2 separate regions of the Homo sapiens genome follow, and region 1 is linked to region 2. Evidence: fine-mapped expression QTL. A gene starts in region 2. The other region holds a variant in brackets. All regions are shown on one strand. Distances are from middle to middle. Region 1 has its middle 2.3 kb from the start of SLC25A19. Region 2 holds the start of MIF4GD (MIF4G domain containing).

Region 1 (4,377 bases), 20 kb after region 2:
GCGCACAGCTTCCTGGGAGATGTAGTCCGGCTGCTCGCGGGCGCGCGAGTTCGACCGACGCGTTAGAAGGAGGTGCCTTGCGAAGCCGGGCTGCGACCTTAGGGGTCGCCGTGCTCTGGCGTGTGACTCGAAAGTCAGCCTGCAGGCGGGGTCCAAGGTTAGGGCGCGGTAGACTTGACCCGCTTTCCTCAAACTCTGTTAATGCCAGAACCCGGATAATCTCAACTTGGTAAAGATGGCAGGAAGCCTAGCAAAAAGCTGGAGGACGTCGGGAAGAGAATAGATGAGAACAGTCCCCTCGGGGACGGGGAAGGCAAAAACACGAGTGTCCCCCCCTCTCACCCCGAGTTTTAGTATTTCTCATTATAAAAGTAATATTAAAAGTATATAGACAGAAAATATAGAAAGGAAGGAGGAAATGACTCATCCTACCGCCCGCACACAACTAGCGTCACGGTTTTGCGCGACAGTATTGCCTCCTGACTTTTTAATTGCATTTTTATATTCGTGTTATCATTTTGACGCACAATTTTAAGACATTTTTATTGTAGAAAATTTCAAGATACACAGAAGTGGAATAACCCGATGAAGCCGCGTAGAGTCGCTCTCCGACCTCAGCAGTTACGCGACTCATGGGGCAATCTTGTTTCCTCTATTTCTGCACCTACCTCGCACGCGCTGCCCAGCGTTATTCTGAAGTAAATACCATCACGTGTTTTCACCAGTAAATATTTCAGTATGTGTCTTTAAAGGACAAGCATTCCCTTTTTAATACGTATACATTATGCTTCACACACACACAAAACTGTCACTCCGACCCCCCAAAAAAACTTTTAATATCAAATATGAATTAGTGTTTACACTTTTCTGAAAGAAAGAAATGTTCTTCTTTTTTTTTTTTTTTTTTTTTTTTTTTTTTTTTTTTTTTTTTTGAGACAGTTTTGCTCTTGTCGCCCAGGCTGGAGTGCAATGGTGCTATTTCAGCTCACTGCAACCTTTGCCTCTGGGGTTCACACGATTCTCCTGCCTCAGCCTCCCGAGTAGCTGGGATTACACGCGTGCACCACTATGCCCAGCTAATTTTTTGTATCTTTAGTAGAGATGGGGTTTTGCCATGTTGGTCAGTCTGGTCTCAAACTTTTTTTTTTTTTTTGAGACAAGAGTCTCACTCTGTCACCCAGGCTGGAATGCAGTGGCACGATCTCGGCTCGGTGCAACCTCCACCTCCCGGGTTCAGGTGATTCTCCTGCTTCAGCCTCCTGAGTAGCTGGGACTACAGGCCTGCACCACCATACCCAGCTAATTTTTGTAGTTTTAGTAGAAACGGGGTTTCACCATGTTGGCCAGGCTAGTTTTGAACTCCTGACCTCAAGTGATCCACCCAGCTCGGCCTCCCAAGGTTCTGGGATTACAGGTGTGAGCCACCGTGCCTGGCTGAAATGTCCTTCTTAAAACAAGTTGTTTGCTTTTCTTTCTTTTTTTTTTGAGACGGAGTCTAGCTCTGTCCCCCAGGCTGGAGTGCAGTGGCGCGATCTTGGCTCACTGCAAGCTCCGCCTCCCGGGTTCACGCCATTCTCCTGCCTCAGCCTCTCCAAGTAGCTGGGACTACAGGCGCCCGCCACCACGCCCGGCTAATTTTTTGTATTTTTAGTAGAGATGGGGTTTCACCGTGGTCTCGATCTCCTGACCTCGTGATCTGCCCGCCTCGGCCTCCCAAAGTGCTGGGATTACAAGCGTCAGCCACCATACCCAGCCACAAGTTTGCTTTTCTAAGTGACAGAGCTCAGAAAACAAACAAAAATGTTTGTCTGAATTGAGATCTTGGTTGGGTGCAGTGGCTCACACCTGTAATCCCAGCACTGGGAGGCTGAGGTGGGTGGATTGCTTGAGGTCAGGAGTTCAAGACCAGCCTGACCAACATGTGAAACCGCGTCTCTACTAAAAATACAAAAATTAGCCAGGCATGGTGGTAGGCGCTTGTAATTCCAGCTACTTGGGAGGCTGAGGCAGGAGGATCACTTGAACCTGGGAGGGAGAGGTTACAGTGAGCCGAGATCGTGCCACTGCACTCCAGCCTGGGCAACAGAGTGAGACTCCGTCTCAAAGAAAAGAAAAAGAGTTGAGATCTGAACTGAACATTGCAACTGGAAGTCCTTTTAAAAATCTATTGTTTTTCTCCACTTTACTTTTTTTTTACTTGAAATTTGTTTTCTTTCATTTCCTTTCATTTTCCTTTCTTTCTCTATTTTATTATATTTGTTTTTTTT[T/A]AAGAAACTAGATAGAGCCAGGCTGGGGGTGCACACCTGTATTCCCAATATTAGGGAGACTGAGGGAGGAGGATCCCTTGAGCCCAGAAGTTCAAAGCTGTAGTGTGCAAAAATAGTGCCTGTGAATAGCCACTGTGCTCCAGCCTGGGAAACATAGCGACACTCCATCTCTACAAAAACTAAATAATACATTTTTTAAAAGAAAGAAATTAAGTGGTTTATGCTGTGGCATTTTCCCTAGTCTGGATTTTGCTGATCGCATCCCCATGGAGTTGTTTCCACATCTTCCTGTGTCCCTTGTGTTTTTTGTTTGTTTGTTTGTTGTTGTTGTTGCTGTTTTTGAGACAAAGTCTCACTCAGTTGTCCAGGCTGTGGTGCAATGGTGCAATCTCGGCTCACTGCAACCTGTGCCTCCTGGGTTCAAGGGATTCTCCAGCCTCAGCCTCCCAAGTAGCTGGGATTACAGGCACCCGCCATCATGTCCAGCTAATTTTTGTATTTTTAGTAGAGATGAGGTTTCACCATGTTGGCCAGGCTGGTCTCGAACTCCTGACCTCAGCTGATCTGCCTGCTTTGGCCTCCCGAAGTGCTGGGATTACAGGCGTGAGCCACCACACCTGGCCCCTATGTCCCTTGTGTTCTCTGCTAATTGGTAATTAGATCTAAAAGGTTTGATTAGACTGGGTTTGACTTTTTTTTTTTTTAGATAAGGTCTCACTTTGTCTCCCAGGCTAGAGTGCAGTGACACGATCTCAGCTCACTGCAGCCTCTACCTCTTGGGGTCAAGCTATCCTTCTGCCTCAGCCCCTAGTAGCTGGGACTACAGGCACGCGCCACCACACCCAGCTAATTTTTTGTATTTTTTGTAGAGACGGGGTTTTGCCATGTTGCCCATGGCAGTCTTGAACTCCTGAGCTCAGGCAATCTGTCTGCTTCAGCCTCCCAAAGTGCTAGGATTACAGGTGTCAGCCACTGAACCTGGCCTGATTTTTAAAATTTATTTCTTTATTTTTTGAGACAGAGTCTCACTCTGTCCTCCAGGCTGGAGTGCAGTGGCGCAATCGCAGCTCGCTGCAAACTCCGCCTCCTGAGTTCAAGCGATTCTCCTGCTTCAGCCTCCTGAGTAGTCGTGATTACAGGCATGTGCCACCTCGCCCAGCTAATTTTCGTATTTTTAGTAGAGACGGGGTTGTTTCACCATGTTGGTTGGGCTGGTCTCAAATTCCTGACCTCATGATCTGCCCGCCTTGGCCTCCCGAAGTGCTGGGATTACAGACGTGAGCCACTGCGCCCAGCCTTTTTTTTTTTTTTTTTTTAGACAGAATCTTGCTGTGTTGTCCAGGCTGGAGTACAGTCATACAGTAGTGTGATCTTGGCTCACTGCAACCTCCGCCTCCAGGGTTCAAGCGACTCTCCTGCCTCAGCCTCCTGAGTAGCTGGTACTACAGGCACATGCCACCAAACCTGGCTAATTTTTGTACTTTTAGTGGAGATGACGTTTCACCACATTGGCCAGGCTTGTCTCAAACTCCTGACCTCAAGTGATCTGCCCACTTTGCCCTTCCAAAGTGCTGGGATTACAGGCATGAGCCACTGTGCCTGGCCTGATTTTTTTTTTTGTAAAGACAGTCTCGCTCTGTTGCCCAGGCTGGAGTGCAGTGGCACAATCTTGGTTCACTGCAACCTCTGCCTCCTGGGTTCAAGCAATTCTCTTGCCTCAGCCTCCTGAGTAGCTGGGATTACAGATGCCCTCCACCATGCCCGGCTAATTTTTGTATTTTTAGTAGAGATGGGATTTCACCATGTTGGTCAGGCTGGTCTCGAACTCCTGACCTCAGGTGATCCACCTGCCTCAGCCTCCCAAAGTGCTAGGATTACAGGCATGAGCCACGGCGCCCGGCCAACGTTTTTTTTTTTTTTTTTTTTTTTTTTAAATGAGACTACTTACATGGTGTTGTGTATTTCCATGAGGAACACCATAATGCCTGCTTGTCTGTCATTTTGTGATGTTTGCAGCCATCGTGTCTCAAAAAAGAATTGGTTCCTGGCCAGATGCGGTGGCCCACACCTGTACCAGCACTTTGGGAGGCCAAGCTGGGTTGGTCATCTT
Region 2 (4,377 bases):
TGGTTAAACTTTTTTTTTTTTTTTTTTTTTTTTTTTTTTGAGACAGGGTCTCGCTCTGTAGCCAGGCTGGAGTGCAGTGGCAGGATCATGGCTCATGGCACCCTCACCCTCCCAGGCTCAATCAATCCTCCCACCTCAGCATCTTAAGTAGCTGGGACCACAGGTGCCTGCCACTATGCCCGGCTAATTTTTCTTTTCTTTCTTTTTTTTTTTTTTTTTGTAGAGATGGGGTTTACACCATGTTTCCGGGACTGGTCTTGAACTCCTGGACTCAAGCAATCTGCCCACCTTGGCTTTCCAAAGTGCTGGAACTACAGACATGAGCCACTGCGCCTAGCCCTATGGTTAAACTTTTAAAACAGTCTTTACAGTCTGAGAGGTGACTGTGATTCATACTCCAAAATAATGGCCTCAATGTAGCTTGTCTTCCAGTTCAAGAATTACGTTGCCGACTCCTATCGTCAGAGAATGAGGGGAGGGGTGGAGGCATTCACCAGGCTCAGCCTCTGGTGCTGCCCACAGGGGCCCTTCTCTGTAGCTCCTGACCCCAGCTCAGGAGGGGTCCCGTGCTCACCTTTGAGTGCTGTCTTCAGCAGCTGCTGGGTCTCTGCATCAAAGGACTGGATTTTATACTCCTCTCTACTGGGCTCCCCCATGACTAGCCAGCCCCGGTAGCTCTTGACTGGGCTGGGAATAAGGACAGCACCTGAGGAGAAGAGGCGAAGGGAGCGGCCTCAGGTGTGGAGCGCAGGGCGGGTTCCGTCCTGCAGGCCCTGGACGGGGCTGACGGCGCGCTCGGGACAGGGACTCCTGGGCGGTCCGTGGCGTGCGGTGGTTGGCTGAAGGCCCACCAGGCTTGGCTTCTGGTGGGGACTGGGCATCAGCCAGGCACCTGCTGCTCAGTTTAGAAATCCCTCGCTTGTGGGATTACACAAGAGCGAGAAGCTGAAGCAGGAAAGCGCCCACCCTCCAGTCCCAGCAGGAGGCAGGAGTAGACTGGGGCAGGGTGTGTGCGGGCGGACGTTACAGTTGCTTAAATAAACCGGCCTGACGTTGCTGGCCCAGGAAGATGCCGGGTGAGGGCCAGGCTGGGAACTCCAAGCGGTGCGACTCTGTCCCCAGCAGGTCTCCGAGCCCCTCTCCCCAACCCTCTCTTTCTGGCTTTCGCCGAGTCCTTCGGTCTCAACACCCGCCGCTGCATCCCCCGGATGGGGCCGGCCTGCGTGGGTGGGGACGCAGGCGCCCTGTCCGCCGCCCCTGCCGGGAGCAGCCTGAACTCCCCAGACCCGTGCCAGCTTCTCCCTGGGACAGGCTGGTCGGATCGGCTCCCGAGTGGCAGTAACCCGGCCCTACGCACTCGAGACTCCTAATTCCTGAGCTCCATTCTGGAGCCTTCCTCTTACTGGGGGGCAGGATGATGCGCCCCGGAGAGGTGGCTCCCGCCGGAGGCTCCCCTCTGGCCGTAGGAGGCGCCTTTAGGGTCTCCAGCCCTCGGCCGTTCCCCCCGCGCCCGGAACGCCCCTCCCGGAGGCACAGGGCGGGCTGCGGAGCCCACGGCCCAGGGTCCCGCGGGCGGGAGAGGCGGCGTGGGAGCCGGGACCCACCTGCCGGGCCGGTGGCGCGCGCGCGTGCCCGGGGCCGCTCGGCGCCTGGGAGCGCGCAACCAGCGTCCGGCGCTGCGGGGCCCGCCGTGAGCTCATCTCCTCGCGCGGCGCCGGGGAAGGGTCGGCTCGCCCGCGCCACCTGCCGGGCCCCCGGGGCACTGCCCTGGCCTCCAGGCCGCCCCGGAAGCCGCGCCGCCTGCGTGGGACCCTGCGACGCTGCCACCCAGCCGCAAGCGGAACTCGCTTGGCTCGTCACCCCTTCACCCGGTGCGCCTGGGCCGTGTCCGGGCCCACGCCGGACCCGCCGGCACCTCGATCTTGCGCGTGGCCCCGCACCCAGCCCTCCCCGGAGCTCAGGTGCACTGGGCCGGGAGACACCGCTGGGCTGCGCGGCGTGGGAAGAGCCTGCAGAGCGCGTGGTGGGGACCTGGTGGCAGGAGGAACAGCATCAGCCCTGGTCGCACCACTTTCCCCGCTCCCCCAACCCAGGTAGAGAAGGCAGGGGCTGCAGGGCCGGGGCCAGCCACAACCCTCTCCCGCTCCAAGGAGGACATGGGCGAAGCGAGTTTCAGGTCATAGGGGCAGCCCCGAGAAAGGGGCCCCATTGGCAACTCGCGGCCGTCGGTTGTTGCGAATGCCCCTGAAGTGGCGCGGACCCCACCGCCCGGCGTCTGCCCTGGGTGACAGGAGGGCACCTAGAAGTGGGGGAAGAACTGCCGCCGCTCCTGCCGCGCGACCGGGAGGAGCGCTGCCGGCGCTGCCCGCGTTCTCGCCTCCTTTTAAAAGAACCGCCAAAGTGGTCACCGAAAACGGAGGAGGAAGAGAACGCTCAGCTGCAGCAAAAGAAACCAATGGGCAGGAAAGATGAAGAGAAGAAACTTTAACGGAATTTCATAAAAAATGCATTCAGGCAGCTGCATCCTCGTGGCCCCCGCCGCAGCCTGGACCTTGGGAACCAGCAGCCCAGAGCCAGGAAGCCCCAGCATTCAGGGCCCAGACAGACCCCAAAATCCCAGACCAGAGGCAGGGAAGGATGGTGCGAGGAGGAGCCCAGGACCCACACGCCAGGGCCAGGGCCAGCGCCGGCTCCCAGTGGGTGCCTCTTTCCAAGGCTGGAGAGGGAGGCAGAATGGAGGGCTTCCCAGGTCGGAGCAACCCTACAGGCCGGGCAGATGGAGGGAAGGGTGGAGGTCATGTTCTGGAGACCTCCCCTCAGCCTGGAACTGGTTTCTCCTCTGCCTCTCCGCCTGTGGGTGTCCCTCTGCTCTGGTAACACCCCAGGCACCAGCTGTGCCCTCACCAGGCTACGTGCCCGCCCCTTCCTTCTGCCATCCCCATCAGTGGGCTGCTTCAGAGCCACGGCCCTTCTGGGGCTACAGGGGAGGATGCACCCGCAGCATGCTCTGCACTGAGGAGCAGGCAGTGGGCGCTGATGCCACCTGTCCTGCTGATAGCTCCTCACCCAGCAAGGCTGACCCAGCTCTGGGTGAAAGAGGAGTCAGTGAGGTAGACTGGGGAGAGGCTGCACCTTCACCCACGCCTGCCCACAGCATGGCCCATCCACTTCCTGCACGGGCGCTGGGATCTGCTTTCCATGGAGCCCCACGGCCATGACCAGCCCGGTCCTGGGAGAGGACAGCCTGGGTGGTGGTGTGTCTGCAGACACGAAGGTCTGGGCACGGGGCCCAGAAAGTGACTGGCTCAGCCTGGAGTCTCCCCCAGCACTAGAAGCAGAGCTGCCAAGGGCTGCCGCTATGGAGAACATGGGATTTGAGGAAGGCAGGAGTCCTTTCCCTCATACTTTGTGAGTAGGCAGATGTGCCAGGGGAGATGGAGTAAGATAAGGAATGTGTGTTTAGCTTTAATGTCTATTAAATAGGTTGGAAAAACAGGCCAAGTGTAGGGACCTGACTCCTGCAAAGGGCCTACCGCAGCCCTCTGCACTCAAGCAGCAGCCCCATCCAGACCAGGAGTGTGTTCTGTTCTCCTGGCAGGCAGGGCTGATAGGTGTAGGATGGCGTCTGTTTCCTTTGGAGTGTGGGCTGGTCAGAGGAGAAACAGCAACTTCCTGCTCCTTCTCACTGTGTCGTTGGCTCACCATAGACCACGTCCTGCATTCCCTCTGATTCTCTCATGGGGAGAGCCCTGGACCTTCTGGTGGTGTCCCAGCTGGGTGGGTTCAAGGCTGCTACCCCGCTTGGGGCAGCTGGCCTGCAGGGAAGGGCCAGACGGCACCTCTCAGTGGAGACTGAATCTTCCTTCCTTCAGGAGGCTGCCTCCAGGGAAGACCTGGGGTCCTTCCTGCACTCAGCGCTGGCTGGCTGTCCTGTTCATGCAGTGGAAGACATTACAGAAGAATTCATACGAGAAGAACATGAAGCCTGTGGAGAGGGCAGCCTTCAGCAAGCTGGGGGACAGGCCCTTGAAGAAGCCCAGGGCGCCTTCCTTTTGCAGCACCTGCTTGGCACAGTCCATGAGGCCCTTGTATCTCCGTACCTGGGGAGAGGAAAGGGATGAAAATATGGATGCCCGCTCTGCTCCCATCAACACAGCCCCTGGCACATCACAGATCTTAAGAAGTACTTGCTGGACAAAGAAATGAATGCAAAATAGCAAATTATTTTATTTTTTCGTTGAGGCAGAGTCTCACTCTGTTGCCCAGGCTGGAATGCAGTGGCACAATCTTGGCTCACTGCAGCCTCTGCCTCCCAGGTTCAAGTGATTCTCCTGCCTCAGCCTCCTGAGTAGCTGGGATTACAGGCACACAACACCA

What was found. PIP is the estimated chance that this variant, and not a neighbour inherited with it, causes the effect. A credible set is the group of variants that fine-mapping cannot tell apart.
Region 1: its variant is the best candidate, but not a certain one, in a credible set for the expression of MIF4GD in whole blood (TOPMed, PIP 0.68).

Annotation. Positions count from the first base shown.
Region 1 is chr17:75,289,592-75,293,968 of GRCh38, forward strand. No RefSeq gene overlaps it. Among named protein-coding and RNA genes, the nearest start is that of SLC25A19, 2.3 kb to the left of the region's middle. RefSeq lists enhancers at 1-120, 211-260, 301-350. The variant T/A (reference allele first, on the strand shown) is at 2,268.
Region 2 is chr17:75,269,540-75,273,916 of GRCh38, forward strand. MIF4GD (MIF4G domain containing) reads right to left here and starts at 1,692. Exons shown (of 6, transcript NM_001370592.1): 1 at 1,605-1,692; 2 at 575-706. The coding sequence starts at 656. It overlaps SLC25A19 (solute carrier family 25 member 19), which reads right to left. Exons shown (of 8, transcript NM_001126121.2): 8 at 3,453-4,100. The coding sequence ends at 3,912. MIF4GD-DT (MIF4GD divergent transcript) reads left to right here and starts at 1,760. Exons shown (of 1, transcript NR_036520.1): 1 at 1,760-4,356. RefSeq lists silencers at 1,259-1,328, 1,439-2,098, 3,069-3,118 and an enhancer at 2,607-3,394.